2 separate regions of the Homo sapiens genome follow, and region 1 is linked to region 2. The links come from fine-mapping of genetic effects on gene expression. A gene starts in region 2. The other region holds a variant in brackets. All regions are shown on one strand. Distances are between the middles of the regions. Region 1 overlaps SUPT3H (SPT3 homolog, SAGA and STAGA complex component). Region 2 holds the start of SUPT3H (SPT3 homolog, SAGA and STAGA complex component).

Region 1 (15,965 bases), 260 kb after region 2:
TAGTGTGTATCTTTTATTCTAAATTCCAGGCTTCTCCCTTAGAGGATAGGCATAGTCAGTGTCCTTAATCCTTACATCGCTAACACTGTTCTTCATATCTTTTGGGGGAACCCTTAATTATCAATCCCAGAACATTCTGTAAATCTTCATTAGGAAATTCCTTCTGAACTTTTGCTGAAAAGTAGTTACTGTGCACTGTGTGTATAGCAGCTGTTTGCCTAAGTTAAAAAAAAATTGACCGTTTTAATTTGTTTTAAAAATATCCACTGGCACTGGTTCTCATTACAGATGTGTGGTTGTAACATTTCATTTTTTAAATGTGTATCCATCTTTTTTCAGTTCTAAAGGAGTCCAAAGAAACCATCTAAAACCTTAAAAATAACCACTAAACCTACAATGTTTTTGGGTTTTAAAAATTCTCAAGGGAGGACATTTTTTATCTTGGACTTAAGCTTCATACAGGGTGGCCCATTTAAAAGAGGCCCTGTACACAGCCACATTATTAAATGGGAACTGTTTTAAATGGGCCACCCTGTAAATCAGAGGTTTTTTTCCAATGGGTATTTACTTCTTTGCACACTTCTGAGTTTAGTGCAAGTTTTCAGTTACTGTGCTTGATAGGCAGCCCTGAAATTTAAATTTGGGCATCCAGGTGACATTGAAATGCACAAATCTGAGTTCAGAGACATGCAGAAGCTTGTTGGTTCATATTTTAAGAGATCATGTTTGGGTCTCAGAAAATTTGGGCAACATTCTATGTGAATCTCCTTTTTCAAAACTTCTGAAAAAAAATGGATGGGATACGAATAACTGAAAATGGAAACTTTTAGTGTAAAGAGTAATACAATTTTGGACTTTCTTTTATTGGAAGTCTTTTAAAACCAGAAAGATTTTTTTTTTTTTGGTAATAGTTTAAGGTCAATAGTTCTTTATATTTTTAATGCAGTATTTCAAACACATACTATTGTGTTCAGTTACCTGAAAAATAAATCACTGCTAGAAATGAGAGTTTACTGAAGCCATAATCTGATCCAGGTTTTGCTGAAGCCCACCTCAAAATTTGTAGGACACAGAGCAAGAGTGTAAGTGGAGACCCATGTACCATATTATCATCATAACTATCCCTGAAATCACAAATCAAAACAGGAAGAGATGCAAGAAAGTGGATACGTTGCACTATTGAAAATGGTACTTTAGAATGCAAGAATCTTTTGCATCCATACTCTATGAGAGGAAGATTTAAGACCCCATGCATTTCTACCACTTAATTTTCCCCATTCCACAGTAGTGTGCATTTGCCATCAATAGTAATACAACCCAAAAACCAAACAAAATTTGGTTCAAAGTATTGTAGAAAAAAAATGTTTGGTAGTCATATCATGCATAGAAAGTCAATTTAATTTTAACATGACAATTATAATTCATGGTTTATTTTGGACTTAAAATTTTGTTCATTAAATGATGACATGTTATTTGATTACTATAGTGATAGAATTACAAAGTGAAAAACACGCCTAATACGTTGATAAGTTTGTGTATTTGTTTCCTAGGGCTTCTATAACAAAGTACCAAAAACTGGGTGACTTAAAGCAACAGAAACTTACTGCCCATAGTTGAGGTTGTTAGACATCCACAATCAAGTGTCTTGTTCTCTGAAGGCTCTAGAGGAGAATCCTTCCTTGTCTCTCCTAGCTTTACGTGTTTGCCAGCAATCCTTGGTGTTTCGTGGCTTTTAGATTCATCACTCCAGTCACATTACTGTCTTCTTCCTCCGTCTTCATATTGCCTTCCCTCTGTGTGTGTCTGTCTCTGTGCAAATTTCCACTTTTTGTAAGGATACCAGTCCTATTCGTCTAGAGCCTACCCTAATGACCTTGTTTTAACTTCATTATCTCTGTAAAGACCCTATTTCTAAATAAGGTCATATTCTGAGGTACTAGGGGTTAGGATTTTTATACATTGTTTTTGGAAGGACACAATTCAACCTATAACAGTTTTTTTATTATTATTTTAAACATGAATATTCAATATTTTAAAAATTGGTAAGCTGTACAGTTTAAAAATAGTATAATTTTTCTTTCTTTTTTTTTTTTTGAGATGGAGTCTCTGTTAGCCTGGAGTGCAGTGCTGCAATCTCAGCTTGCTGCAACCTCCGCGTCCCGGGTTCAAGGGATTCTCCTGCCTCAGCCTTCCAAGCAGCTGGGATTACAGGCATGCACCACCATGCCCAGCTAATTTTTGTATTTTTAGTAGAGGGGGGGGTTTCACCATATTGGCCAGGCTGGTCTTGAACGCCTGACCTCAAGTAATTCACCTGCCTCGGCCTCCCAAAGTGCTGGGATTACAGGCCTGAGCCCACTGTGCTCAGCCAGTACAATTTTTCAACTGTACTTTTACAATTTAAATAAGAACATGAAGTTGATTGCTTGTTTTCCATATATTTTGACAAATTAGTGTTTTTTTTTAACAGTGGAACAGTTTTCTTGCAGTTACTAAATAATATAATAGCTACAGTAAATGAGTTATCATCATCCTTACATTAACTCAAGCTCTTACTCAAATACTTCTTTAAAAGAAGTTCTTGATTATTTGAATATATTTTCCTTTCTCTCCTCTCTGAACAGTGGCAATTATGGTCAGCTACTAGTCACTCTTAATTCATATTATTTGATACTGGTGTTTGATTATACCAGGGATTGGCAAACTGTGGCTTGAAGGCGAAATCAACATAGCTCCCTGTTTTTGTTCAGCAGCCTGTGTAACCACGAATATTTTTTACATTTTTAAATGGTTGGGGAAAAAAACAAAAGATGAGTAGTATTTCATGAGATGTAGCACTTACATGAGATGAAATTATGTGAGATGCAGAATTCAGATTGCAGTGACCATTCATAAGTTTTAGTGCAGCATAGCTATACACATTCATTCATCTATGGACTGTCATTGGTGACTTTGGTATTGTGATGGCCATTGTGCAAAAGAGACCTTATAGCCCACAAAGTTGAAGATATTTACTGTCTGACCTTTTCCAGAAAATATTTGCTGACCCTTGGATTACACCTATAGTTTTTTCCCCAACCTGTTACACTTCACCACACAGGTTAAAATAGATTATATATATATAATCTTTGTTTTATTTTTTGTAATAGTACAAATTTTTAATTGTACTTTAAAAAAATTGTACAATTTAGTGGCTGAGTGCAGTGGCTCACAGCTATAATCCCAGCACTATGGGAGGCCTAGGTGGGAGGATCACTTGAGACCAGAGGGTGGAGGCTTCAGTGAGCCATGATCACACCACTGCACTCCAGTCTGGGTGACAAAGCGAGACCCTATCTGGGGAAAAAAAAAAAAAAGAAATAAATGATACAATTTAAAATTCACACTTAAAAAAATTGATGATTTTTGTATTGTCATAGTAGAATTTTAATTAAATTAGACTGACTGAAAGAGAGTTTCATGTGTGCTTATTTGTATCTCATTTACCAGTGTGGTATGTACTAATTTTGGAGTTCACAAGGACTTGGTGTTTACATTTGCATTCCTCAGCCTTCAGGAGAGGACTTTCATCTTGGTTGATGTTCAGTGAATATTGTTAAAGTGAATTAAGTTTATATGTAAATTAAGATGGTTATGTATATATGTGGTAGAATTTTAAATCAGAAAACCCAATAAAGAAAATAGGACTATATTTATTTAGTATTCCACTTAAGTGTCAGCTTTTGGACCTAGCTTCCATTAAGTAATAGGGTATTAGAATATTTACCTGTTGTAAAGAAATTTACCCCAGGTTCTCAAACATGTTAATGATGAAGCTGAAAATAGAACATGTAGACTCTAAATGTCCACCTTTCATTTTCAGTGTACAATCCAAAATGAAAGAGTCTAGCAATTTGTGGATGATTATTCTTGTTCATGGGGTCTGCAAGCACAGTTTTCAGTATGATATAAACTTAGAAAATAGACATGAAGTGCCTCTCGTTTAATTTGATATATCTTCTAATATGAATTCTCTTCAACAATACTCCCAAAATTTTTTTTTAATTAGAAACAAAATGTCATGGAAGTAGGAGCAATTCTGTCTTCTATTTTTGGTGTTTTAATGGTGTATATGGTGATTTATCCTTAAAGGTTAACTTTGTTATGAAGTCATTGGAATAAAGTTAGTTACCAAAATAAAATTAATGATGGTGGGTTTAGTATTCTTTCAAAGTCTGTTGTTTTGTTTTGCTAGCAAATAGCTTAAAGAGACATTTTAAACATCAATATTTTATTTAAAAACCTTTTTTCTTAATCCTTAGGTACTGTGAAATTATTCCTAAGTTTTTGAGAAAGTGTATTAGGGTTTTATTAGGGTTTTAACTATATAAAGTATGTGTGATTTTAAGAAAATTTAAGTAGTTATACTGAATTGAATCAATATTTTTTTGTTATGGATTATTCTTATAACATGTACTAAAAGTGCTACAGACAGCCTTGTTACTTTTCCACTCCCTTGCCAAACCCTTGCTCCCAACCCCAACCCCATATCTGGAATAGATTATTGTAGGCTCTAGCATTTTACAGCGTAATAAAGGTGACACCTGTGTGAAAATATAGTTATGGTAAATAGATTAATTTTGCATTTTCTTTTTTAAAGTTAATATATGTAGAAAATACAATTTGTTCATTTTTAATTTTTCTTTTTTTTTTGTTTTTAAATGAAAGATATCTTTCACTTAACTTTCTTTACTCAGAGTTTTAAAGAACACATCTGGCTAGGTGCGGTGGCTCACGCCTGTAATCCCAGCACTTTGGGAGGCTGAGGCGGGTGGATCATGAGGTCAGGAGTTTGAGACCAGCCTGGCCAACATGGTGAAACCCCGTCTCTACTAAAAAAACACAAAAATTAGCTGGGCGTGGTGGCGGGTGCCTGTAATCCCAGCTACTCAGGAGACTGAGGCAGGAGAATTGTTTGAAGCTGGGAGGCGGAGATTGCAGTGAGCCAAGATCACGCCACCGCACTCCAGCCTAGGCAACAAGAGCGAATCTTCGTCTCAAAAACAAAAACAAAAACAAAAAAACCCAAAAAAAATCTATAAGTAGAAATGAGTTATGTGAGTTTAGTGAAGAATTGAATACTGCATTATGAACAGGTTAATTTAAAATGTTAAATATTGTTTTGAGTCATTCAACTGTGAAAGATATACTTAGATAATCCACCCCCCCCCCCACATAATTTCATAGGGTTTTGAAATCTTTGGAATGTGGGGGAAAGGGAAACTCCTGCAACTGAGAAAACCCAGATTTAGTAATCTAATATTCTAATTCCTTGTCAATACTCAGGAAGTCAAATTGTTTACATTTGTTTGAATCCTGGAAACCTCTGGTCCCCAGGACATACAGAGCATCACAATTTCCTTCTTTCCTCTCAGAGTTGCCCAAGCATTCTCTCTCTAGAAAAAAATGGGACGTTCTCCAAGGGCTTTGAGATAGGAAATTTGTTCACCATAAGAGAAGCTCTAATTTTTACTCCTATAGGATCTAGAGGTTATGGAAATCAGAGATCCTGGTTGTGGAGAGTTTCTGGGCCAAGATTTTTGTGGAATTTTTCTGTTTATCAAACTCTCTGGAAACAGTATATGAATGGTATTGGTGTCTTTATGCTGCAAGGAATATTTCCCTCTGAATATAATAATAATTACATACCTAGATAATCAACCTGTTCCAAAGTATCAATTTTAATCTCTGTGTAATATTTGTATTATAATCTATTAATAGTATGATGAAGTTAACCTATACTTATTATTGTTCTAATATTATTGTTCTAATATTGTTCAAATTTTAGCCTTGGGAAATTTTTGCATTGTTTAGTACAATTATTCCTGAACTTTATCTCAGAACCTGAGAAATTTCTATGTGATTTATGCATAAAGACACTATGGAGTTCCCCAGGTTTGTAGCTTTAATATTTACCCTTAATTCTTGAAACCTAAAAGCAAGATAAATTTCATGTGGCAAACAGCTATTTGCATGAATAGAGGAAGCCAGTTATTTGCTTTTGACTTGGAAGAATTTGTTCAGCCTTTTAATAGATTCCTTTTTTTGGTTATTGATATAGACATCATTTGTTGTTCAACTTCTTTAGTTTTCCTCTTAATCTTCTGAATTCAACTATTGTGGCATTTATATATTGGTTTGCATTTCTGCATGTACCACACTGGTTGTCAAAAAGTTATTTCCAATTTTATCAAAGTATCATCATCATCCTACTCCAGTCACCCTAACTTGGATATATGCTTATATAGTCTTTTTTTTTTTTTTTTTTTTTTTTAGACAAGGTCTCACACTGTTACCCAGACTGGATTTAAACTCTTGTGCTCAAGTGACCCTCCCTCCTCGACCTCCCAAAATCCTGGGATTATAAACAGAAGCCACCATGCCTAGCCTATATAGTCTTTTCACTTTTAAAATTTTCTTTATTGTGGTGGAAACTGAAATAAATTACTTCCGAAGTCTCTTCAGTTTCTATGAAAGACAATATTATAGAGCAGTTAGAGGGTTTTTGTTTGTTTGTTTTTTGTTTTTTTTAGTTTGCAGTCAGACTGATGGGATTTGGAATCTCGTTTCTGCCACTTATTAACTATGTTACTTGGGTAATTTAGTTAACCTCTTCAAGTCTTGAAGTAGCAATAGTAATAGTACTTACCTTTTAGAGTCATTTTGACATTTGAATCAGTTCAGTGGTGTCTAGCAAACAGTAAATCCTCAGTATGTATTATGGATATAATCGACTCATTGTCATTTTGTCATAACTATCATTATTAAACAGATTCTAAATTGTATATATTTTCAGACTCATTTTTTTCCTTTTCTTTTTTAAAAGTATTTGCTGCCTTTAAAAAAAATAAATCATTAATCTGGTTCCTTTTTGAATATTTTTTACTTGGCCCCAAATGCATACCAAGTTTAATGAAATTTCAAACATTTTTCCTTCTACATGTGAAAATCTTAAGTTTTCTAGGAATACACCCTTTGATTCTCTGCCCTGGCATCTTTTACTGCATAACCTAATTCCACTCTTTATTTGGTCCAAAGTGCTGCAATTATTGACTCTTTCCTGTTAACATTATGCCCACAAATCACATGAATTTGTGGCCATCTGTGCTCATCCAACAGGCAGCTATATACATATAATAAGCATATATTAAAGCCTATATGCTTAAGGTTTTAATCTGCTCTAACAGTATCTAGTTTGTGTGCCCACTGAACTTTCACAACATAGGGAAGGCTCCTTGTGGTCTGAGATAATAGTGGAATCAGTTGGGAGGTGAATCCGTCCTCATACCTTCTCTTCCCTAGACATACATTGAGTGCCCACATACAACTGGCATCTTCTTAGGTGCTCAGAATACAAATTTAAATAACAGGTGATTATTTTCCTCTAAATGCATAGGGGAGAATAGAGACAAATTAGTTCATGTAAAAGTATGACTATGTAACTACATAACTATACAACTATGTAACTATACTATGAGGAGGTTGTGAAGAGTGCTATGGAAGCATCTAGGAGTGGGATTTGTTATTTATTGCCACAATAATGCTGCATAACAAAACATTGTGAAACCTCAGCATTTATGATTATATGTCTATGACAGTAGATTAGACAACCCCACCAATCTCAGCTGTGCTCTGTTATCTATCTGAGGGTCAGCTGACTGCCAGCTGATCTATGATAACTCAACTACGATAACTGGGGTGACTGAGCTCTGCTTCATGTATCTCTAATTTTCCAGCAGATTAGCCTTGTCATACTTTCATGGCAGTGGCAGAGTGCAAGAGTGCAAGTTGAAATGCTTAAGCACTTCTTAGCCTCTGCTGCTAATAATATCCCATTGGCCAAAGAACATAACAGGGTTGAGCTCAGGGTTATAGTGCAGGGCTACTTAAAGTTACTTGGCAATGGGAATGAATATAATATGAGGTGAAAGGTGAGTTAGGGCAATCAGTGCAATATGCCTTAGAGCAGCAAATGAGTATTATGGAAAATTTCCCAAGGGTCGTACCCCTCGAACTAAGTTTGGAAGGCATTGGCTGAATGGAAGAAGAAACAAAGACTTA[T/C]TTGACAGAGAAAATATCATGTACAAAAGTGAGAAGACCTGAAACCTATTGTGTGGTCAGCTGTCCATAGGGAGTTTGATATTTTAGGAACAAATGGTGCATGGCTAGAAATAAGGGTGGAACCAGAGAGAAGCCAGATGTCAAAGACTTTTATATAATAAACAGAGGAGTTTGAAAGTTGTAGGATTCTGTGAAGGCTCTAAGCTAGGGTCTTAATTACTGTTTTATTGATATTAACTATTATAAATAATTAATTGCCTGGTATTGCCTATTAATATTTTTATTTGCTACCACAGAGCTTGTACCTATGAAGATCTTAATCGTGTACAGGGTGGTAGTAGGTAGATACAGAGATGTATGTTTTCACTAATATTTTCAGTATACTTAAAGACTTTATATGTTCATTGTAAGCTTCTACAAGTACATACTGATCTTTTCATAGTAAAATTTAAAGGTTAATATGAGTTTCAGTGTTAATAGTGTATATAAATATCTATAAAGGGTTATTATTTATGCATGCCAAATTTTTAAGTTATAGACTTTATACTAAAGTAAAAGATCATTTAATGTATGCTATGTGTTTATTCTCAGTAGAGTTGTGTCTTAATGTCTTTCTCATGTCATCACTTTTTTATCCATGTTCTAGAGAACAAACTGAAAACACATTTCTTCTGGGCATACTAAATTTCATTTTTATTTGAGGAATACAGTATTGTTGAGACTAGAGATGAACTTTTTCTTAATGTTCTTAAAAGTGACTGATCACTATAAGACAATTGTCTTATATACTTCCTGATTCAAGCGAAAGCCCTTTGTGAAGAAACTAATGGAATATATTATGTAGTACAACTGGAATATATTATGTGTTCTCCTACTGGCAGTCACAGATATTTACACAATTAATTTTCAAGTTGCATTATTTCCATATTTTTTAATTTATAGTTTTATTCATATTCTGAGAGCAAAGCCATTGTTTTTGGTGACAAATTAGATTATGTACAATAGTGGTATTAATTATTGCCAGGTGGTTTTTCTAGAATGCTTTGTAAGGAAGTGTAATAAAGTTGTAATTTTGGCATGAGTTTGCTTCATTTTTTAAAATGTTGGGTGAAGGAGATTCTAGTCATTATACCCTGATGAACTTGACATCAATCTCAAGAAAAATTTTGGAATCTATAATTATTAGGAACTTGCATGAGCTCACAATTGATATCAGTATAAAATAATTTTACTTTCATTAAGGTAATGTCACAGTTTTAGAGTAAAAATTTAAATGAGATGTTTGATGTCATCTGTGCTGATGTTCTGCTGGATGAGATGGAGAGTTATATTTCAGACAAAGACAGCTTGAAACCTGGATCAACTCTTCCCAGCCCACAAAGTGTTGATTATTGGATCTGTTGTTTCAAGGATATCTCTTTGCTACAGGGCTTTATAATTGGCCTATGACTTGTTCAACACTTAGAGGTTTGCATTCCTTTGGTTTGTTTACTAAAAGTTTTATAACTTTTTTTTTAATGAAAACTTGGGTAGGACCTAAATATATAAATCAAATAAATGCCAAACTACTCTGATTCAAGTGAGAATTGAAAGTGGTAGTAGTTTTGGAAAGTCTTTTCAAAGATATGCTATTTACATTGAGACCAAAATGATAAGAAATAGGAAGTCTTTAACCTTGAAGAAGCCTAGAGAGGATGTATGGTTTCTTCAAGTAGATTAGTGGTTGTCTTTGGCTGAGGATGGGAAATAGGACTGACTGTAAATGGGCATGAGACATTGTTTTGGAATGATGGAAATGTTCTGAAACTAGATTGTGGTGATGATGGTAAAACCCTGTAAATTTACTAAAAGTTATTGAATTGTACACTTTTAAACAACTGGATTTTATGGTATGTAAATGATATCTCAATAAAGCTGTTTAAAACAGATGCTGTTTAGCAAAAACAAAACAAAACCAGACCTTTAAAGTAAGCTTTCTTCATACTTTTGAAGACCTGTCATGTAAAAGGATTTGTCATTTCATCAGTTCCAGGGGACAAAGCTAATCCCAGCATATGGAAATTAATTTTTAAAAACCCAGAATTTCACTTACTGGAACAAATATCTCTCCAAGATGCAGAGGGACAGGCATAGTGATAGTGTGTTGCAGGGTCTTTAAGAGGTTTAAATGACATATATAAATATACCTGGCACTTAATACATGCTTACTGTTTAAAGAAAAATTAATACAGATAAAGATACAAGTGTATGTGTGTATAATTTTTAAGAGAGAGAGAGAAACGTGCGCAGTTGTGCTAAAATGTTAATAATTGGTGATTCTAGGTGAAGGATTTACAGGTGTTCATTCCACTGTTATTTCAGCTTTTCTGTTGGTTAGGAATCTTTCAAAATAAAATGTGAGAAGAAGGAGAGGAAGGGAGGCTAGGCTGACTAGTTTGTGAGGGCAAACTTCCTTAAATGCTGTGAAAAATAACGAGCCTGTCATTCAGTATCTGAAATAAAAACAGAAAACTTGATTTATTTCTTCTTATCATAAAGGAGAGATACATGCCGGTCAAGCACAGTTTGTTAGCAAGGAAGGCTGCTGATCTTTTGGGTTTTCAGGAAGCATTGAGTTCAGGGATTGGTCGTGTTCTGGAGTTGACATAATCTATAATAAGAGAGATGAGAATGTTGTTGATTGGTTGGCACTCAAGGGTGTGTTTACTGGAATGAGTCTGTTCCTGGTTCTGGTGGCTGTTTATTGCCATGGCTACAGAAAATCAGTCATGTCTTTAAGTTTGTGGGAACTTTGAAAATTCTCAGCTAGTATAATATTCAGTGCCTGACATGATGTAGACCCAGTATTCAATAAATATTCGTTGAATGTAAGTGCATTTTTAAAAAGCTCACAATGTTTGCCATTATCACCACCATCATCATGTCATTGTTAGAAACTGAAGAACTTGGCTTTGGAGTTCTAAAATCTTAGGTTGCATTTTATTTGGAATCCTCTCACTAAAGTCCTTAAGTTATTTTGGAAGTTGTTTTGTTTGTTTGTTTAAATCAGTGTTTCCTAATTTTTTTTCAATGCTATGTAACTCCATGGGCTTAGAAAAGGATTATATACACAGTAAATACGTTTAAAATCAAGAGTTTCTTTTCTTCAGAACCTCTCAGAGTGTTTAGTATGGTAACATGTATTGCAAATCTAGAAAAGAATAAAATATGTCATTTTCCAAGCTCATTTAACTACAAAATACTTTTTCTTCTGGACACTGTCAATCTGAAAAATGTTGTTGCAGTATGCCATATTTATATCCATTTTATATTGATAATTTTCTAAAGATCTGATGGTACAAAATTCTCTTATCTCTGTGACTATCTCATACCAAGTAATCTTGACGCTTACTGTTGCTGACTCCCCGGGTAAATGTCTTAACTTTCTTGACTCTCTCTGATTCCATGTTTATGTAACATGGGAGAAACTTTCCTGTTTGCATGCTTTACAGTTTGCTTTAAATGATAGGTGAGAAAAGTCCTCTATGACTATGAGGTGTTATTGTGATTACAGTGTATCTGTTTTCAATGTTATAGGAAGTTAGTTTTTTGACTAAATTTCAGTCAATCTAAGATAGTAAAGTCCATTAAATGTTTTGGAGGCTTAATAGATGTTCATTTAGCGTGTTGTTGTACAATGAGTTCTGGATGAGGTAAAAGTCCTAGTTTTACTTCTAACTGGACTTATGACCTTGAGATGGCTATTTAACCTCTTGGGCTTTCATTTTTCATCTGTTTAAAACTGAATGAAAGGACTACGTAATCTTTTAGATTATTTTTTGACCTAACATTCAATGATTGCTATATAGATCTTTCCTGTTCCTCAAATAGGGACGGTTTATAATAATTTGCTTTATGCTGCTATCTATTAAGAGTTTGAAGATGGGAATATTTGCTTCTTAGAAATGTAGGATATATGAGGAAAAATGCCCTGTAAATTGTTAGAAGAAATTCATAAAGATATTCTGCTAGTTTTGTAAACTTTCTCAGATGCACATTTTCATGCACTGTAGATGAGTTTTATTTTATGAGCTTTCTTATAAATATTTATGGATGAGCTTTCTTATGTAAATCTTGATTTTTAAAAAAATTTTCTGATTTATATATTTTTTCTATTTAAAGCTATTTCTTTCACACATCAGATCTTAATAAATACATGTTTTAATATTTCACACTGCCCATTGCATACATTTCGTGATTCTGTTCTAAGTTTTTTTCTCTCATCTTTCTAACATACAAATTATTTATTTAGTAATTCATTAGTTATATTGTTTATTGTCCTTTCCTCATCGGAATGTAAACTTGACTCATTTTTTTGTCTGTTTTGTTCACTGATATGTTCCAAGGAACCAGAACAGTGCCTGGCACATACCAGGCAATCAGTCAATATTTGTTGATTGAGTGATTAATACTTGTAGGTATTATGTGTTTACCTTTTCAAAATTTTATACTGTTTTATCTTTTATTTTAAACATATATGTATATTAGTATATTTGTATTTTTTTACGTCAGCATTATTTATTTTATATCATAAATAATTTAATTTTGCTTTTTATATATCTTCACATATTTATATTTATTTCATGGTGTTTTGTAAAATTCTAAAAGTTTTCTCAAAGTTCAGTTAAATTATATGAATGTTTACTATCAGAAGGGGAATGGGGAAATGGTTGTTGAGAAATCAAGCAAGCAATGAGAAAAATCATCACTGCTAGGAAATCTGTTGTCTTAGATGTTTATTTGATTTTTTTTTTTTTTTTTTTTGATGGAGTCTTGCTCTGTCGCCCAGGCTGGAGTGCAATGGCTCAATCTCGGCTCACCGCAACCTCTGCCTCCCAGGCTCAGGCGACTCTCCTGCCTCAACCTCCCAAGTAGCTGGGGTTACAGGCATGCGCCACCATGCCATGCCTAGCTAATTTTGTATTTTTAGTAGAGATGGGGTTTCACCATGTTGGCCAGTCTGGTCTGGAACTCCTGACCTCAGGTGATCTACCCACCTTGGCCTCCCAAAGTGCTGGGGTTGAGCCACCACGCCCAGCCTTATTTGATATTTTGATTTACCTATCACTTGGGGTTTCTTAGAGCTATTGTTAATAAAATTCATTTCTTCCTTTGAAAACAGGTGGGTAAAATCATAGATTTGTGAAAGAGCTGTTAAAATTTGAAGAGCAAGGCTAATTTGTAGTGTTTATAACTTTCCAATTGCATTAAATGACTGATCACGGCCAAACTTCTGCACTTTTATTCCCCACTTTGGATAGTGGACAAATCAGTGTCAACAGATATTGGGTAAGAATGACATAAACAACAGTATGATGTCTGTGTTCACATACATCATCTAGTACTAGTTTAGCTGACTAAAGTGTATGGTAGGGCTGTAGCCTGGTATTCACTCTAATTCCATTTAGGAGAAATTCTTGGGTATTATAGTAATACCTAGTCTATAAAAGTGTAATCAAAAAATGCTTTGAACGGAAAAAAAAAAAACCTTTCTTTTGGGGACAGCAAGTTACCCAGAGCCTTCTTAAACCAAGCAATAGTCACACAGTGTCCATTCTAAAGTAATGTCAATTACCTGGGGTAGGAAAACATCCAAAAAAACCAGAACTAATTAAAAAAAAAAAAAAAAGTGACTAGCTCCCAAGACCACAGCAATTACTTAACCAGAGTATCCAGAATGATTTAACCACATTAGAGTCTGTAGCCAGTGGGAAGTATTGAAAGCAACTCAGCATCCAAGAAGATGTACACATGGCAGTAAAGAAACATCTCTTTATCCTTTCTTTATGTTTGGTTTCTAGATGCTTTATGAGTAGATCTGCTTGTAGGCCTTGTATGCTTGGTGACTGGCCCAGCAGGCTGTCCACAGATCATCACCAAACTTATCCCCTTTGCTTCTTTTTCAGAATCTCTTTAATTAAAACTTAATCAGCCCTTCCCCTCTGTTAGAAACTTAATCAGCACTTCCCCTCTAAATCAGCCCTTCTCCTCTGTTAGAAACTTAATCAGTCCTTCCCCTCTGTTAGAAACTTAATCAGTCCTTCCCCTCTATTCTTAATCAGGGCTTGGAAATTTAAAAACAAGTATTTTAGACTCAAAGTTAGGCCTGTTAAATTCTTTTAATTGAAAAAGAATAATGTAAAATTCCGTGATAATATGTTCAACACCCCCCACCTTTTTTTTTAAATTTAAGGAACAATGACATGTTTCTTAGAAATTATTTCCACATATAAGGCCAGGGATAAACTATAGCTTTCTTTTCCTTCCTCTAATTATTTTTATTTATTTATTTCGTTCTGTTACTCATTTTTAACATGTTTTTCTTTTTCTTAATTTCATGATTTTCCCACAGTTTACTCTGTGCAATTTGATTTTCTCATAACAGTGTTGCCCCATTCTTGAAGACAGTCTTTAAGATTTACGAATTATAGTTGAATCAGATATATTTGATTCAAAATAAAGTTTCTGAAAAGGTTTCTTTAAAATTATCTAATCTAGTCCCCTCCTTTTACTGCTGAGAAACTGAGGTGCCAGGAGAAGTTACCTGCTCATTGCAGTACTTCTTAATAGCATAGTGGGAACTAGAACCAGATCCTCTAACTTCCAGGATATTTTCATGGTTACTGACTTTTCCTACTTTGTAGCTGACGGCCAGAATATAGTATGACTTCTAGCAGCATTATTGTAATCTTTTTAGTTGGATACAAGCCCTGTGAACTTCATCCATTTTTCTGAGCTCAAATCTCTGGCTGGTCATTTAGTTTGGTGCTATTTCTTTCCCTGAGTGGGGGTGGGGGGGCCGTGACTACAGTGAGATGTCAGCTGGGCACCTACTCATCCACTGACTCTCATGAACTTCATCCTCAACATCAGAGAATAGAAAAGCATTATCTTCAGATGAAGGAATAAATTTCCCATATGCTATTTGTTTCTGTTTTGAGACTTTAGAACTGAAATAATAAGGGTAATTGTTTGAAAGGAAAAATACAAGTTTTATTTATTGTTAATTCATTCCCTTAACAAATGAAACTGTTTTCTTGCTTGTTTTTTTTGCGGGGGGGAGGGAGGGGGGAATGTATGCCATGACCTTCTAGTACTAATTAGACTGATTTACTTGGTAGGGAACACTTTGGAAAACCCCTCAATCCCAGGCAAACTAGGGTGATTGGTCATGCTGATAACAATAATGTATATATGTTAGTGAATGCAAAAAGATTTTCTAACACCAATAAATAAAATATATTTTTAAAAATACCATTTTGGCTGGGGGCAGTGGATCAAGCCTATAATCATAGCACTTTGGGAGGCTGAGGTGGGCAGATCACGAGGTCAGGAGTTCGAGACCAGCCTGGCCAACATGGTGAAACCCTGTCTCTACTAAAAATACAAAAACTAGCTGGGCATGGTGGCGGGCGCCTGTAATCCCAGCTACTCAGGAGGCTGAGGCAGGACAGTTGCTTGAAGCCGGGAGGTGGAGGTTGCAGTGAGCGAAGGTCGCGCCACTGCACTCCAGCCTGGGTGACAGAGTGAGACTCTGTCTCAAAAAAAAAAAAAAAAAGTATCGTTTGTTTTATTTCTTACCTCCTTTGATATTTCTCTTTTGTGTTTATTTTATGCTGTTTTGTTATTATATTAATTTGTATAACTTGAAAAGAAATACACACACACATATGTACACACATTACATATACTTTCTCAAAAAGTATTTATTTTCCCCTTACAGTTTATGCCATTAAAAGAGTTTGGAGTTGACTGCCTTTCACAGCTGGGGATATGTAGATGTGAGGAGAATAGGTCAATTGATACATCATCAAATACATGCATTT
Region 2 (15,965 bases):
ACCTCCCAGCTTCAAGAGATTCTCCTGCTTCAGTCTACTGAGTAGCTGGGATTACAGGCATGCACAACCATGCCCAGCTGATTTCTGTATTTTTAGTACAGACGGGGTTTCACCATATTGACTAGGCTGGTCTTGAACACCTGACCTCAAGCGATCCACCCACCTTGGCCTCCCAAAGTGCTGGGATTATAGGTTTGAGCCACCACACCTGGCCTGCTTTTAAGAATAGAAATTTACAGTACTTTTAAGTTGTGTTTCTGTGATGTTGTGATGTTAACTCCCTTTCATCATTTCACAACCTTAGTAAATCTGCTGTGCCCACACAGAGCTTTGTGAAAATGCTTTTGGGTGAAACCTAGGAACAGGGATAAGTTCCACATCTGAGTGGATGTTTGTGGAATAAGGACAGATGGCAGCTCATCCATGAACCTCACTAGTTTACCGTAAGGGGAAGTTCAGAGCCAAAGCGGTTCAGTGAGAACATCAGCTCCCCAGAAATAAGAAAAAAACTTGGGTTGGGCATTGGACTTGCAAATGAGGTGGAATGGAGGTTCAAACCAATCCTAACCGAGAGGTTAAAACCCAGGGAGATCTCAGCTGACACCCAGGTTACATATTATCATAGTACCTTTGCTCTTCCTTGTTTATATACCTTTGTCTCTCCTAAATTCACCAGTAAGAAGTCTTTTTGAGAGCAGAGACTCTGTTATTCATCTTATATTCCCAATGTCTAACAATGACAAATAGTGTACTTACTACGTCCTCAGTAAATGTCTGTTAAAAGAATAATTGTCAAATTTACATAAGTTTACTGAATTAAGAAAAAATAGGCTGGGCATAGTGGCTCATGCCTGTAGTCCCAGCAGTTTGGATGCTGAGGCAGGAAGATGACGTGAGGCCAGGGGTTTGAGATCAGCTTGGGCAACATAGTGAGACCCCATCTCCATAAAATTTTTTTAAAAAATTAACAGGGTATGGTGGTGTGCATCTGTAGCATCAGGTGGGAGGACTGCTTGAGCCCCGAAGTTTGAAGTTACAGTGAGCTATGATTGTGCCACTGCACTCCAGTCTGGGAGATAGAGTGAGACCCGGTCTTTAAAAAAAAAAAAAAAAAAAAAAAAAAAAGACACCCTAATGTCTAATACTTGAGATAAGATTTTGTGTTTAATAGTACTATGTCTAACACATTAAAAATATAAACATTATAAAATTACTCAATAACTAATTATAATAAAAACTAGAAAACTGGCCAGGCACAGTGGCTCACACCTGTAATCCCAGCACTTTGGGAGGCCAAGGTGGGAGGATCACTTGAGGCCAGGAGTTCAAGACCAGCCTTGCCAACATAACAAAATGCTGTCTCTACAAAAAATACAAAAATTAGCTGGGCGTGGTGGTGCATGCCCGTAGTCCCAGCTACTCAGGAGGCTGAGACATAAGAATAGCTTGAACACCGGAGGTAGAGGTTGCAGTGAGCTGAGATCATGCCACTGCACTCAGCCCAGGCAATGGAGTGAAACTCTGTCTAAAAAACAAAGAAACAAACAAACAAACAAAAAAAACCCCAACCACTCCCCCCACCCCTGGAAAACAATAATAACTACAAATTATTAAATATTTTCAATGTGTCAGGAACTTCCCATTTAAATCTGATATCAACCTTCCTACATTAAGTATTCCTATCCTTATTTTACAGTGGAGGACACTTATTTTCAGTTGAATAACTTGCCCAGCATTATGGCTAAAGTGACACCAAAGCCTTTATTTTTTACACTATACCTGACTGAGTTAAAGAAATGGTTTTAAACATATTCTGGAAAGAGGAAAATACAGCTTATGCTGCATCTGTAAAAAGCTAAAAATAAAAACAAAGTAACCTGGTGAAACCTGTTGGTACAGTTCCCTGATTACTATTAACAAATGATCTGAGCATTACTTAGTCAAAATAGGTTTGTTGCATCCACCTTCAGAATGTGAAGTAGGAATAACAGGTTGCCTTAGCCACACTGTAGTTTATTTTATATGACACCAAATAACTTTTGGTCCTGTTTCCACATGTAATAGAAAAAGAAGGCAGTTATTTGAATAATTTACTGAAATAGATTCAGTTTCAATGAAAATACTTTGGAGAACTGGATGTTTCTGTATACTCGTCTTAACTTTATTCTCTACTTTCATGGATTAATAGACCAAAAAATATTTTTCTTTTTCTTTTTTTTTAAACAAGGGGATGTTTAGCTTTTCTCAAACTTTCTTAAAGGTATTCCTTGACATATATTAGATAGGTCTAAATGGAACTTTATTACATGAGCAAGATTAGAAATTAATTTAATTATTATAGAATGTTACAAATTCAAAGTTCTCATTTCCTTAAGAACTTATTTATTTATTTACTGAGACAGGGTCTTGCTTTGTTGTCCAGGCTGGAGTGCGGTGGCGCTATCTTGGCTCACTGCAACCTCTGCCTCCTGGGTCCAAGCGATTCTCCTGCCTCAGCCTCTCAAGTAGCTGGGATTACAGTCATGTGCCACCCCACCTGGCTAATTTTTTGTGTGTTTTTTTTGTAGAGATGAGGTTTCGTTATGTTGGCCAGGCTGGTCTTGAACCGGCCTCAAATGATCCACCTGCCTTGGCCTCCCAAAGTGCTGGAATTATAGGTTTGAGTCACCGTGCCCGGCCCAGAACTTATTTATTTTTGATGGCAAAACATTAAAGATAATACAAACATCATGCTTAATTATGTACTTATTCCCCAAACTGCATTCCTGATCTCTTGCACCTGCCCAGCATACTCCAACCCCAATCTTCCCCATCTCAGCTAATGTAGGCAAATCAATTTTTCCAGTTGCTCTGAACAAAATTGTTCATCCTTCATTCCTCTCTTTCTCTAGAACCCTAAATCCAATGTGTCAACAAATCATATTGGTTTTCAAAATATACCCAGAACCCAACCATGTCTTAAGCCCTCTACTGTAACAACCCTAGTACAAGCTACCATCATCTTTTGCCTGGGTTACTGCAATAGGACCTGTCACTCTACAGACTATTTTCAACCTGGCAGCCAAGGTAACCAATTTAAAGCCTAAATCTTACGATGTCAATCTTCTGCCAATAGCCTCTCAGTGTCAGGCACACAAGGCCTTTCACCATCTGGCCTAGTGCTTCTCTGACCTCATATCACATGATTTTCTTTCTGGGTTACTCTTCTTTAGCTACAGTGGCCTCCTGGCAGTTGCTTCAACTTACCAGACCTGTCCCCACCCTACGGTTTGCACAAGTTGTTCTCATAGTCTGGAATGCTCTTTCTTCAGATATGTGCAGGTATCTCCTTCACTTTCAAGTCATTCTTCAAATACTACTTTCTCAGTGAGGCCTGCTTCAACTGCCCAATTTAAAAATGACATCTTCCCCATTTCTCCTGTGCTTGGTCTCCTTCCACATCCCTTCCTGTATAAACTTTTTTGATAACACTCATGACCTTCTAACATACTATATAATTTAGGTATTTATTTTAGGCATTTATTTTTATTGTCTAACTTCTGCATGTGAGTTTGATGATGGCATATGTTTTTGTCTGTTTTGTTCACTGCTCTATCTGCAGCTTCGAGAATAGTGTCAGGTACATGGTAGGCCTACAACAATCCGTTGAAATGTAGAAGTTGTTTGATTCCAGTACAAGAGTTTTACATATTGGATTCCATGGGAACGGGAACAACTAAGTTTTCATGTGCCTGAAGAGCTCAAAGGCTCTTTGAAACTCTGGTATTCCATGGTTCCCTTACCATTCTGACTCTCAAAAACATAATCATTTTTTCAGCAGCCAAGCACTACTTTTAAAAGACACTGGACTGTGAAATCTACAATGATAGGTCCCTAAGAGGATGATCATGATTACAATTCTACAAGCTACCTGGTACTGTAAAATTTTTTAACATTTCTTTTCTAATCATTGTACTGCTTTTCCTTATGAATGCAATTGGAAGGTAGGGGAAGCCAATTTGATTACACCTTAATAATTTTGTGGCACCCCAACCCCCTGCAGTGCATCAGCATATTTGATACATCTTTTCACGCTGGTTTTTCTTTTGAAATGTGTAACATCAGGCAGGGCATGGCAGCTCACTCCTGTAATCCCAGCACTTTGGGAGGCTGAGGCAGGAGGATCTCTTAAGCCTAGGAGTTTGAGACCAGCCTGGGCAACCTAGGGAGATCCCCATCTATACACAAAATTTAAAAATTAGCTGAGTGTAGTGGCACATGCCTGTAGTCCCAGCTACTGAGGAGGCTGAGGTGGAAGGATTGCTTGAGCCCAGAAGGTTGATGCTACAGTAAGCTATGACTGCATGACTTCACTCCAGCCTGGGCAACAGAGAGGGAAACCCTGTCTCAAAAGAAAAAAAAAAGAAAAGCCCTGAATACTTTTGTAATTTTTGTAGCACAAATGCTGAAATTATTCTGCACAACTTTAGTATCCATCCTTTGGCTATTCCCATTTTGAAGGAACATAGAATTTTAGGGCTGTAAGGTTTTAGTTCATTTGGTTCTATCATCTCATTCCACAGATACAAAAACTGGGGTGCAATGATGTTAAGTGACTTGCTCAGGTACTACCGGGCTGAGTAATCTTTTTGGTCAGAACAACTTGCTCTAAACATAAAACAAGATACTTTTGAGAATGCAATTGGAAAACAGTTCTCAACGTCAGAAAACAAATATAGCAACAATTGCAATATACGGTTCTAAACAATATGCAATCTACCCAGTTTATTTCCATGGTGACAACTTAAGCATTAAAAATAGAAGGCAAATATAGCAAAGGATGAAATAATTGATAAATAGAAAATAAAAAGTCCCCACAAACATCCTAGCAAGTAAGAGTTATGAATCTCAAACAACAAAGAATTTCCAAGTCACCTGAACTGTCACTGTAGCATCCACATGAGAAGAAACCACTTCTGGCCGGGTGCGGTGGCTGACACCTGTAATCCCAGCACTTTGGGAGGCCGAGGCAGGCAGATCACAAGGTCAGGAGTTTGAGACCAGCCTGACCAACATGGTGAAACCCCGTCTCTATTAAAAATACAAAAATTACCCGGGCGTGGTGGCACACGCCTGTAATCCCAGCTACTCAGGAGGCTGAGGCAGAAGAATCGCTTGAATTGGGGAAGAGGAAGTTGCAGTGAGCCGAGATCGGGCCACTGCACTCCAGCCTGGGTGACAGAGCGAGACTCTGTCTCAAAAAATAATAATAAAAAGAAACCACTTCCATGGAATCAGAGAGATGGTTCCATATTAGCCATGACTTCTGCTGCTCTTTTGAGAATGTGGGCTTACTACCTAATCATTTTAAGATGCCCATGGGCACTTTTACTTAGATACATGCACTTTCTCTTTGCACTAGTGAGTCTACGTGAATATTACATGCCAGAGGAACGTTAAAGTCTACGCTAACAATGCTTCATTTTTCTTTAACAATTTTGTCCAGGTCATGGAGACATTTTTGTGGAGTGATAAATTAACTTGGTCTCCTGATGTGTTTTCCCCACATGCCTTGGAAAATCACTTGTTTTTCTGAGAGGTGGTAGTCATCAAAGCCTTAACTTCAGCAACAGCTTCGCTGTTTTAGCTTTGTTATAATTAAGATACCCTAGTACCATTGATAGTTTAGGATATTTGATATGAATGTAATGCAAAAATATTTTTGGCCCTTTGTATATAGCAATGGTCTCAAACTATGAGCAAAATTATGGCTAAATCAGATTTTCAAAAATGGATTTTAAGAAATTCCAGGAGGTAGGAACCTGGTTAACTCATGTGACTTTAAAAATCAGATCTCTGCCAACAGCCCAATTCAGTTTCCTAAGAATAAATTTTTAAACTTCCTGTATCAATGCCTTAACTCAGTTTCCCTTCTCCATGTGTCACTCTCATTAACTTTTGTTGTGCGTGATTTTTTTTTTTCTTTTTTTGACGGAGTCTAGTTCTGTTGCCAGGCTGGAGAGCAGCGGCGTGATCTCGGCTCCCTGCAACCTCCGCCTCCCAGGTTCAAGCGATTCTCCTGCCTCAGCCTCCCGAGTAGCTGGGACTACAGGCACGTGCCACCACGCCCGGATACTTTTTTGTATTTTTAGTAGAGACGGGGTTTCATCATGTTGGCCAGGATGGTTTCGATCTCCTGACCTTGTGATCTGCCCGTCTCGGCCTCCCAAAGTGCTGGGATTACAGGCGTGAGCCACCGCGCCTGGCCTGTGTGTGATTTTATGCAGGCTGGACACCAGTATCCTAGAATAAGATGATCTGGATTCTATCCTGATAAACTGGATCAAACAGGTACTCATCTGATGCAGGTGAAACTCCAGTGCAGGAACTTCTATGATAACATTAACTGAACATAATTTTAATTGAAATGATCTACTTTTATGTTTCTTTAGATGTGAACATTAATTTTTCTCTTAATCTTCTGTTAACTAATTTCTTGGTAATGTACTCAAAAGAGCTTTCAACCAGTCTTCCCATGTAAGAAGTTATCACCATACTCACTCTGTTACTTTCCCTTATACTGCACACTTTGCTCAGCAATGAATTGATCCCTGATTTACACATCAAGCTGAGCTCTCACATCCTAAATATATCTATTCTTTTGGAATTTTAGGTATTTGGCAAATATTGAAGCGTTGGGGAGATTAAAGAGAATCAAACACAACACTAGCAGACTCAACTACAATCCACAGAGGAAATAACCAAATAAGTTGCTATTTTAAACAATTTAAGCAAATAGAAGGAAGGGATTTCAGAACTCACAGTATCTATAGGCAAGAAAATAACTGAAGCAGTGATGCTTAAAAAGACTTGGTGAGGGTTAATACTTGAATCCCTATAAAATACAGTATTTTATAGTATTTGACAACACAGGTGTGAAGGTGAGCATGGATAACCAGTTTTCTTCTCTAAGCAGGCAATAAGAATGTTAAATATAAATAAGACTTCATATAATATAAAGAGTGAAAGACTGAAAGCATTGTCTTACGACTACTGTATTATTTAAAGAACTACATCTATATCAATTAAATGTGGCAGGACAGAATGTACAGTACAATACTGGGGGTGCAAGATTTTAAAATGAGGAACAGGCCAAAATCTAAACACAGAATCGTCCAAAAAAAAAAAAAAGCCTTCAAGTAGAAAAAGTTTTCAATAACAAAACATGGTAGTTAAACGCCTGCGTCTAGTAACATGAGTTGGGGAAAAAACATTAATAGCAGATTAATGAAACAGATTCTGTGCGAGGTCAGGGTAGGGAGTGATGGCGCGCGGAAGCGGCGTAAGAGCTGGTTTCGCCGTCCCAGAAAGGGTTCCACATCCACACGCCTGTACTGCGGCCCTGCGGGGAGCGTTCAGACCCCTCCGTTTCCCTTCACCATTGTAAACGCGCAATCCCATTAAGATCCCGTTCACTCCAATTCCTGGAAAGAAGCTTAGAACGGTGAATCTCTTCCTCGGAGTTGAAAATCAACTTCCAGTGCCGGTCACCCAATCCTTCAAAAATCCTAGCCCTCTCGGGCCCAATTCCTAAAGAATTCAAGCCTGCACCCTGTACACCCTGACCGATCTCAGCTCGTCCCCACTCCGCTCCCAGCGTCCCCAGCTCTAAACGCCGCCGCGTGGCTCAGCGCTGCCCAAGCCGGGCCCTGAAGGCCGCGCACAACGCCCCGCCCCCGGCGAGCGTGGCGGAAGTAGCTCGCTCGGGCTGGGAGAGCGCGCGCCACCTGGCCAAGCGCGCATGCGCCCGCACTGCCAGTGCGGGGGGCGTCCGTATCGCTTACTCCTCAGTCTCCGCAACCCCCGCCCCACCGAGAGTCGGGCTCACGCCATCTTGTACCCCCCCCATCGCCCCGTCACACAGCCGAGTCACCTTTTCCCTTTCTACACTCCACACTCTCAGTCCCCCACCCCGCCCCTTTCCAAGCGTGTCCCGGGCCGCAGCAGCAGAAACCGCACCATCTCCACCCCCACATTCTCCTCGCGGGAAGCGCAGCAGTGCCTCCAAGGGTTCTTAAAGCAGAGGTTGTAGGGCTTGCGGGGGGCGGTGCGGGGATTCGGGCGGGGGAGACGTCAGAGAGCCGGGAGGGACGCAGAGCGGAGATCCCAGCGTCGCTGGGCCCCCGCGCCGGCCACGCCCTGGCCCCGGCTCGAGGGCGGCTGCCTGGGTCTTCGTGGTCTACGCCGGAGTGTTGAAGGGAGGGCGGCTGTGGGAGGCGCTGGCCGGGCGCAGCGCCCTGGTTCCGCTGCCGAGCGTGGAGTTGCCTCTCGACTCCTCCCTTTTGGCGGGTGGGCGTGGGGTGAGGGGGGCTGGGCTGTGCTGAGAAGCGGGGTGCGCGGGTCGTCTAGGTAGTGTGGGGGCTGCCGGAGGAATCATTAAAGAGGGAAATTGTTGCTTTATGGCACGGCGAGAGAAGAGTTAGGTAGTTAGTGGGAGTGTAGCATCCAGAAAGAGGAAAAGATCCGCTGTGTTCTCTGTGGGGTGAGCTCACGTCTGTGACCCCTGGGGAAATTATTTAGCTTGTCTTTGCCTTGTTTTGGTCTGTAAAATGGCGATCTTATAGCCTATTTCAGAATTGTGAGGATTATATGAGAAAATACACGTTAAACGCTTAGAACAGCGCCAGGTGCTGCTCAGTACATATTAGCTCTGCTTTTGCTCTCCACGTTTTAGGAGTTCAGAATGACTGTGACCTTATTTTCTCAGAGAATCAGGACACTTGGTCTCACACGTGAGAGTGAAGTTATGAAGACAGTGATATGTAATATTTGACACTCAGACGATCCTGGACGTAGTATTACTGTACACGTGGATAAATTAGCATTTCTCCAAGAGGCTAATAGAAATGTTAAGTTATTTCGGTAGAAAGAAATGTGTGTGTATATATATGTATATACATATGTGTGTATATAAGTATATGTATGTGTATATATGTATGTATGTATTTGGAAGGAGAGGACCTGGGGTCTTAGTATATGTGAAGGGCAGACTCTGGAAGAGGAATTAAATTCGCCCTGCAAAGATTTACTTGAAGGACAAAACTTGGGGAATTTCTGGTGAATGTTTCAAAGAGGCTGAATTTGCCTATGAGAAACAGTTCGTGAGAGTACTTTGCAAGAATGGAATGCTCTTCATTGTGCTATGGAAAGTTTCTTATCTCAGGATATTCGGGACGTTGGAGCGAAGTATGCCTAAGTCTAGGGCTGCACTTTTCACTAGCAGTTTCTGCCTTGATGGAGATGTTCCATAATCTGTGCCTTTAGGCACTAGTGGTAGCCTAGGCACAGTGGCTCTTCAGCACTTGAAATGTGATAAGTGTCACTGAGGAACTTAATTTTTAATTTTATTCATAAATTAATAAATTGATTTACGTTTAAATACCCACATGTGGCTAGTGGTAGCTACTGCATTGGACAGCACAGGGCTACAATTTAGATTTTGAGAGTCCTTCCGAGTCTTGATATGGTTGAGTTTTAAATCAGATAAGCCAGCTCTTTGGAACATTTATTGCCATAGGGAATTGTAATTATATTCAAATAATGCCTTTCATTCAAATACTGCAGTTCAGACCATGGGTCTGTTAGTACTTATTTACATCTTGACAAATTAAAGCAAAACGTTGTCTCCTAGGTTGTACAGCTAATGCCAGATTCAGAGAGCTATGACAGTATTAACTGGAGTTTTCTTTAAACATTATTGTACTATTTTGTGATTGTCGGTTTCTGCTATCTTTTACCACTTTGGTTGGTTTTTCAGTGAGAAGTTTCCAGCTCTTATTCAAGTTTTTTTCTTTTTTAACCTTTTGTGTAATAAAGCGATTTGAAAAATTGTAACTCTTGAGCATTAGGACATTTTAGAACTAGTTTTATGGTTATCCAAATCTTTTGGAGAGATAAGTGAAATTAGGTAATAGATGTTTCACAAAATTACTTTACTTGAAATATGTGCATCTGTTTTTTTTTTTTAAAGCAAGTGTATATAAAGTCAAATTTGAAAATAAAACTAAAAGAACAAATAAAAAACCTTTATAGGTAGCGGTAGCACCCTTAACCTTGGCCTGATGTCTGTAAAATGGTGCCCTTGGGCCAGGCACGTTGGCTCATGCTTGTAATCCCAGCACTTTGGGAGGCTGAGGCCAGAGGATCTCTTGAACCTAGGAGTTCAAGGCTGCAGTGAATCATGGTCAGGCCAGGCTTCCAGCCTGGGCTGCAGAGGGAGACCTTGTCTCTTTAAAAAAAAAAATGATGCTCTTGGTCTTAAGGCTGAAGATAATTGTTAGATCTGGAGCAATAACTTAAAGCTCACGAGTTAAATCAGATGGAGAGAATAGCTCATAATATACAAATCAGAATGGGGTGCTTTTATGGGTGACTATAGTATCTTAATTTTTCTGAGACAGTCGTAGTATAAAGCCTGATTGTTCCAGCACAATTATTTTATTTAATAGAACCCCTTTCACTATCAAAATGTTCGAATTGGGACCACATCATAATGTCACCCTACTGTTAGCCTTGTTGGGACTTGTAATATATAGTTTTAGGATGATTAACCACATTGCAATATCAGAAATACTTTATTATTTTTGAGATGGAGTTTCACTCTTGTTGCCCAGATTGGAGTACAATGGTGCGATCTCAGCTCACTGCAACCTCCCCCTCCTGGGTTCAAGCGATTCTCCTGCCTCAGCCTCCCGAGTAGCTGGGATTACAGGCACATGCCAGCATGCCTGGCTAATTTTTGTATTTTTTGTAGAGACAGAGTTTCACTATGTTGGCCAGGCTGGTTTTGAACTCTTGATCTCAAGTGCTCCACCCGCCTCAGCCTCCCAAAGTTCTGGGATTACAGGTGTGAGCCACCGTGCCCGGCCAGAAATATACTTTAAAACAGTGACAAAATTACTGTTTTTGTGTCTAAATAATAAATAAGATACCTGGAATAAGGCCAGCAAGTGACTTTCCCATTTAAGCCACTGATAATTTTAAAATTTTGCTTTGAATATAAACCTTTAGCAGCTTGAGTTTTGGTTCCCTCTGGAAGAAAATCATCTTTTGGTGGGGGTGACTGCATGGTAGTCTATGTCAGTCAAATCAGGTGATTGAGTATTTGTGTTGAAATAACACTGATTTTATTTTATGGTGAGGTTGAATAGTGAAATCCGTCAGAAATCTGATTATGTATTAGAATGTTAAAGAAGGGTTTTGCTTACAGTTTACTTAATGAAAAATAATTCAGCCATATGCATTATTATATTAAGTTTATACTGAAGTGGGTAAAATATTTTATTGAGGCTCTAACACTTGATTTGAGTTCTCGCTCTGCTGCTTCCTAACCATGTGATTTGGGACAAATTATTTAATCTTCCTAAGAATACTGGGTTCCTCATTTATAAAATGAAGATGGTAATGGCATCTGCTTCTAGGTTCATAAGAGGTTAATTTAAATAACTCATGTGATGGGTTGTGTGCAGTTCAGTAACTGTTAGCTGCTGTAGCCTTAAGTTTATTGGATAATCTAGAAGTGATAATAATGTTCTGAGATGTTATGTGGGTTGGTGAACAGAGCACTAAGACCCAATTCTGTAAACCTAGCTTTTGCCCTTTTCTGGCACATTCTTTTGTCATTTCAGTTAAGGTATTTAACTTATTAATATCAGAGCCTCAATTTCCTTATCAGTAAAATGGAATTAGTACCCATCCTCATCCCGCTTTCTCATAGGACTGTTGGTGGCATCAAATGAGAATTACATTTAAAAATTATCGTCTTACTTTACAAACATTTTTATATTGAATTGGTTTTGTCTCATCTTGTCTACCTTCAGCCTCCACTAAAGAGTGACCTGCAAAAATTGTTGTGTAAATTTTGTGTAACAGCATGGATAGTGTATAATAGGCACTATTACTGAAGACAGTTCTCTTTTACAAATAATATTGTAAGTCACAGGCTGGGTGTGGTGGCTCACACCTGTAATCCCAGCACTTTGGGAGGCTGAGATGGGTGGATCACTTGATGTCAGGAGTTGGAGACCAGACTGGCCAACATGGCGAAACCCCGTCTCTACTAAAATTACAAAAAAATTAGCCGGGCATGGTGGTGCATGCCTGTAGTCCCAGGTACTCAGGAGGCTGAGGCAGGAGAATCGCTTGAACCCGGGAGGCGGAGGTTGCAGTGAGCCGAGATCGTGCACTGCACTCCAGCCTGGGCGACAGAGCAATACTCTGTCTCAAAAACCACACACACACACACACAAATAATATTTTAAGTCACAGTAATGGTGCTTTTTTGATCTGGTCACAATATATTTTCTACGGAAAACAACCCCATACTACTGCTAAGGGAGAACCAACATTTTCTTGGGCACTTGATGTGTTCCTTCCGTTGTATCTCATTTATCCAAACATATTCCCACCTAATAGGTTATACTAATGAGGCTCTTACTTTCTAGAATTGGTCTGTGAGGCTTTTTTGTACTGTAGTTCTCCCTCTGAAAATACCTGGCCCATAGTTAATGGGTAGTGAAGGTTAAATAAGATAATGAACATGAAAATCGTGGCCGGCTCTGTGACTTCATGCCTGTAATACCAGCACTTTGGGAGGCCAAGACAGGCCCGGGTTGCTTGAGCCTAAGAGTGATGGGCAATATAGTGAGACCTGGTCTCTAGAAAAAATTTAAAACAAAAATTAGCTGGGCCGGGTGCGGTGACTCACAACTGTAATCCCAGCACTTTGGGAGGCCGAGGCAGGTGGATCGCCTGAGGTCAGGAGTTTGAGACCAGCCTGGCCAACATGGTGAAACTCTGTCTACTAAAAATACAAAAATTAGCCGCGTGTCTTGGCGTGCACCTGCTACTTGGGAGGCTGAGACATCAGAATCGCTTGAACCCTGGAGGCGGAGGTTGCAGTGAGCCAAGATTGTGCCATTACACTACAGCCTGGGTGACAGAGCAAAACTCCATCTCAAAAAAAAATGTAGCTGAGCTTGGTGGTTTGTGCCTGTAGTACCAACTGCTTGGGAGGCTGAGGTGGGAGGATTGCTTGAGCCCAGGAGGTGGAGATTGCACTGAGCTGAGATTGTGCCACTGTACTCCATCCTGAGCAACAGAGAGAGACCCTGTCTCAAAAAGAAAATAGTACTCTGTTTGGTGTATGGTATGTAGGAGTTACTGAAAAGATGCTGTTGAATTCACAGGACAGTAAATTGAAACAATTTATGTGAATATACTTTATAAACTAAAATAACATACAAATATAAATCATTAAAAAATCTTGAAATGTACTTTTGCTGATTTAAATGCTATAGTGGTTTTATGACTGAATTCTGTATATTTCACTTTATTCATATTAGTCTTTAAAGGTCTACTCTTAGTCATAACATTCTTTGAGAATATACATGTTTAACAGTAATCTTTTGTGATATATTTTCAAGAAGCTATGCTTTTGCATGAGTTAATCATCATCATCAGCATGAACTAAATGCCTTATATGTACAAGGCGGTTTACTAAGGGCTTTACGTATGTTATTTTATGTAACCTATAAGAGAAGTAATTTTAATCTCCATTTTAGAGATGAGGGAACTGAGGCAGTGAGGTGGCATAACTTGCCCAAGGTCATGTGTAAGTGTTAGAGCCTATAATTTAACTCCAGAGCCTAGCTCTTTACTGCTTCCATTGTGGTTTGGCATAGTCAGATATTAATATTTCACAACACAGTTCACTGTGACATACACATTGTGGAGGCCTTTTGGGTTAGTTATGATAAACTTTTATTTGTATATTCTTTGATGTATAGTAGAAAGAACTCTGGACCAGGTGTCGGGGGACCTCAGTTTTAGTCCCAGCTTGTATCACTAAATAGTAGTGTGTCCTTGGGCAGTTCAAGAAACCCCTCTGGACTTCAGTTCCTCACCTGAAAAATGAGGGATTTGGAGGAAATTAGTGATTTTCAAACTGTAGTTCTGAAGTCTGCTCAGATGTCTTTGGTTCCCTCCCACCAATTTGCATATATGTTTGTCTGTTATAGTTGCTTATCCATCTACCTAAGATTTTCTTTTAAACAAAGAATTTCTTAACTGAGTGTTTAAAGTCATCAGTCTCCAAGATAACTTAATGACCATGTAAGTCCCCTGACTGCTATGTTTACAACTTTTCAGTTAATTTCACAATATTTTAGTGTTTTAGGAGATAGAGATCTTTTACTAATGAAAAAACTAAAGCACTAAAATGAGAGGATTGTTATTAAAACATAGTATATCTAAATGGCCTGAATATTTCAGGTTATCTGCTATCTGGGATCAAAGCCTGTTGTTTATTGGATTTGTGACCTTCAGCCAGTCTTAGTTTCCTCATTGGTAGAGGGAGAATACTTGTCTTGTAGGGTAATTGTGAAAAAAAAAAAAAAAAGTGAGCTAATACTGGTGAAGTACCCTTTATAAACTCCAAATTCCTCTATTTTTTACATGCCTACAGTAAATCCCCCAGTCCTTTTTCTTTTTGGTCACATAAACTGTTTTTAAACACATCAGATATTTTGTAAATTGTTTATGTTTAATGCAGAATTCTCATAAGCTTTAATATTTCTGAAATGTGACTCTAGACTGGAAGAGAGTTTTGATTTTTAAGGGAGCTGCTTATTTTTTTGACATGTTTGTCAAATACACTTACCTCTTACTGTTAGGAGTATAATTGCTGCCAAAATCTTCCACATATCTCAAAAGTTAACCATTAAGTAACTCTTTAATTAAGTTTGTGTAAGAACAACAGTGTTTTAATGTTGGAAAAGTAAGTGTGCTATGTGCCATTTGTCAGGGCTTAAGGATAATCTGATAGGCACATTTGCAGTGCACCTTAGGGACTGTTTTTGCAAAGAAATTTTTTTTTTAAACTCAATTTTTCTGTGAGAGTACTGGATATGAAAGCATATGGAATAGAAACTTAATGTGAGACTAAAGAAGGAGGATATGCTAGAAACTCCTGTGTCTCGGAGCAGTCTATCACTGGGCTCCTATGTCTGTTCAAAAAGATGCTCAGGTAGGATATGTAATGCTGCACAGTTTTAGCTGTTTATCATCCAGAGAGAAAGGATGGGGGTAGTTTTCATGTTTACAGGGTGTTTTGATATTTTCAATTCAGATTTTTTTTAGTGCCCATTATATGGATTCCTGTGAGATAAATTATTCCTGACAGAGAAACTGAACTTATGAGATTAGTTGATCCTTATATCCTTATACAAAGTTCTATTATATTGATTAATTATCCTTAACAAAAATCTTGTGACCATGGCTTTTATTTCAGTTTTCTGCTTTACAACATCTCTCACAAAGCTTCTGCAGCTTTTTAAAATCTCCACTTGAATGTCTAATAGTTGTCTCAAACTTAACATAGGCCCAACTGAACTGTTTTTTTTTTCCTTCCCAGTCTTCTGGATCTCAGTAAATGGCACCACCATTCAACCAGTTTCTAAGGCTCCAGAATTCGGTCATCCTTGACTGCGCTTCTCTCACACCCCACGTGTAATCCATCAGCAAATCAGTTCTGCTTTCAAAATGTATTCCAGAAATCTGACCACTTCTCATCATCTCCGCTTGTTAAACTAATTCAACCCACTGTCATCTCTTGTCTGCACAACCTCAATAACTTCCTAACTGGTCTTCTTGATTGCACTCTTGCTTCCATATAGTATATTCTCCCAGCTGCTGGAGTTATCTTTTTAAACCTAAAACATTTCAAGTAACTTCCCTTTTCAAAATTCTCTAATAGCTTCACATTACACTCAAGTGAAATGTAAACTCCTGTGGCCTAAAGGCTTTATAAGATCTGCCCTCTTGCTACCCCTGTGTTCATATCTTTCTAGCCACACTGGCCACAGGATTTTGGTACTTTGCTGTTCTTTCTGTTGGGAAGTTCTCCAGAGCTCCCTCCCAGATCTTAT

The links.
Region 1: its variant is fine-mapped to the expression of SUPT3H in whole blood (INTERVAL, PIP 0.92).

The regions. Positions count from the first base shown.
Region 1 is chr6:45,110,766-45,126,730 of GRCh38, reverse strand. The region is part of intron 2 of SUPT3H (SPT3 homolog, SAGA and STAGA complex component); the gene reads left to right. Among named protein-coding and RNA genes, the nearest start is that of MIR586, 79 kb to the left of the region's middle. The variant T/C (reference allele first, on the strand shown) is at 8,101.
Region 2 is chr6:45,369,867-45,385,831 of GRCh38, reverse strand. It overlaps SUPT3H (SPT3 homolog, SAGA and STAGA complex component), which reads left to right and starts at 7,898. Exons shown (of 11, transcript NM_003599.4): 1 at 7,898-8,064. The region is part of intron 2 of RUNX2 (RUNX family transcription factor 2); the gene reads right to left. RefSeq lists silencers at 7,607-7,656, 7,977-8,256 and an enhancer at 7,423-7,966.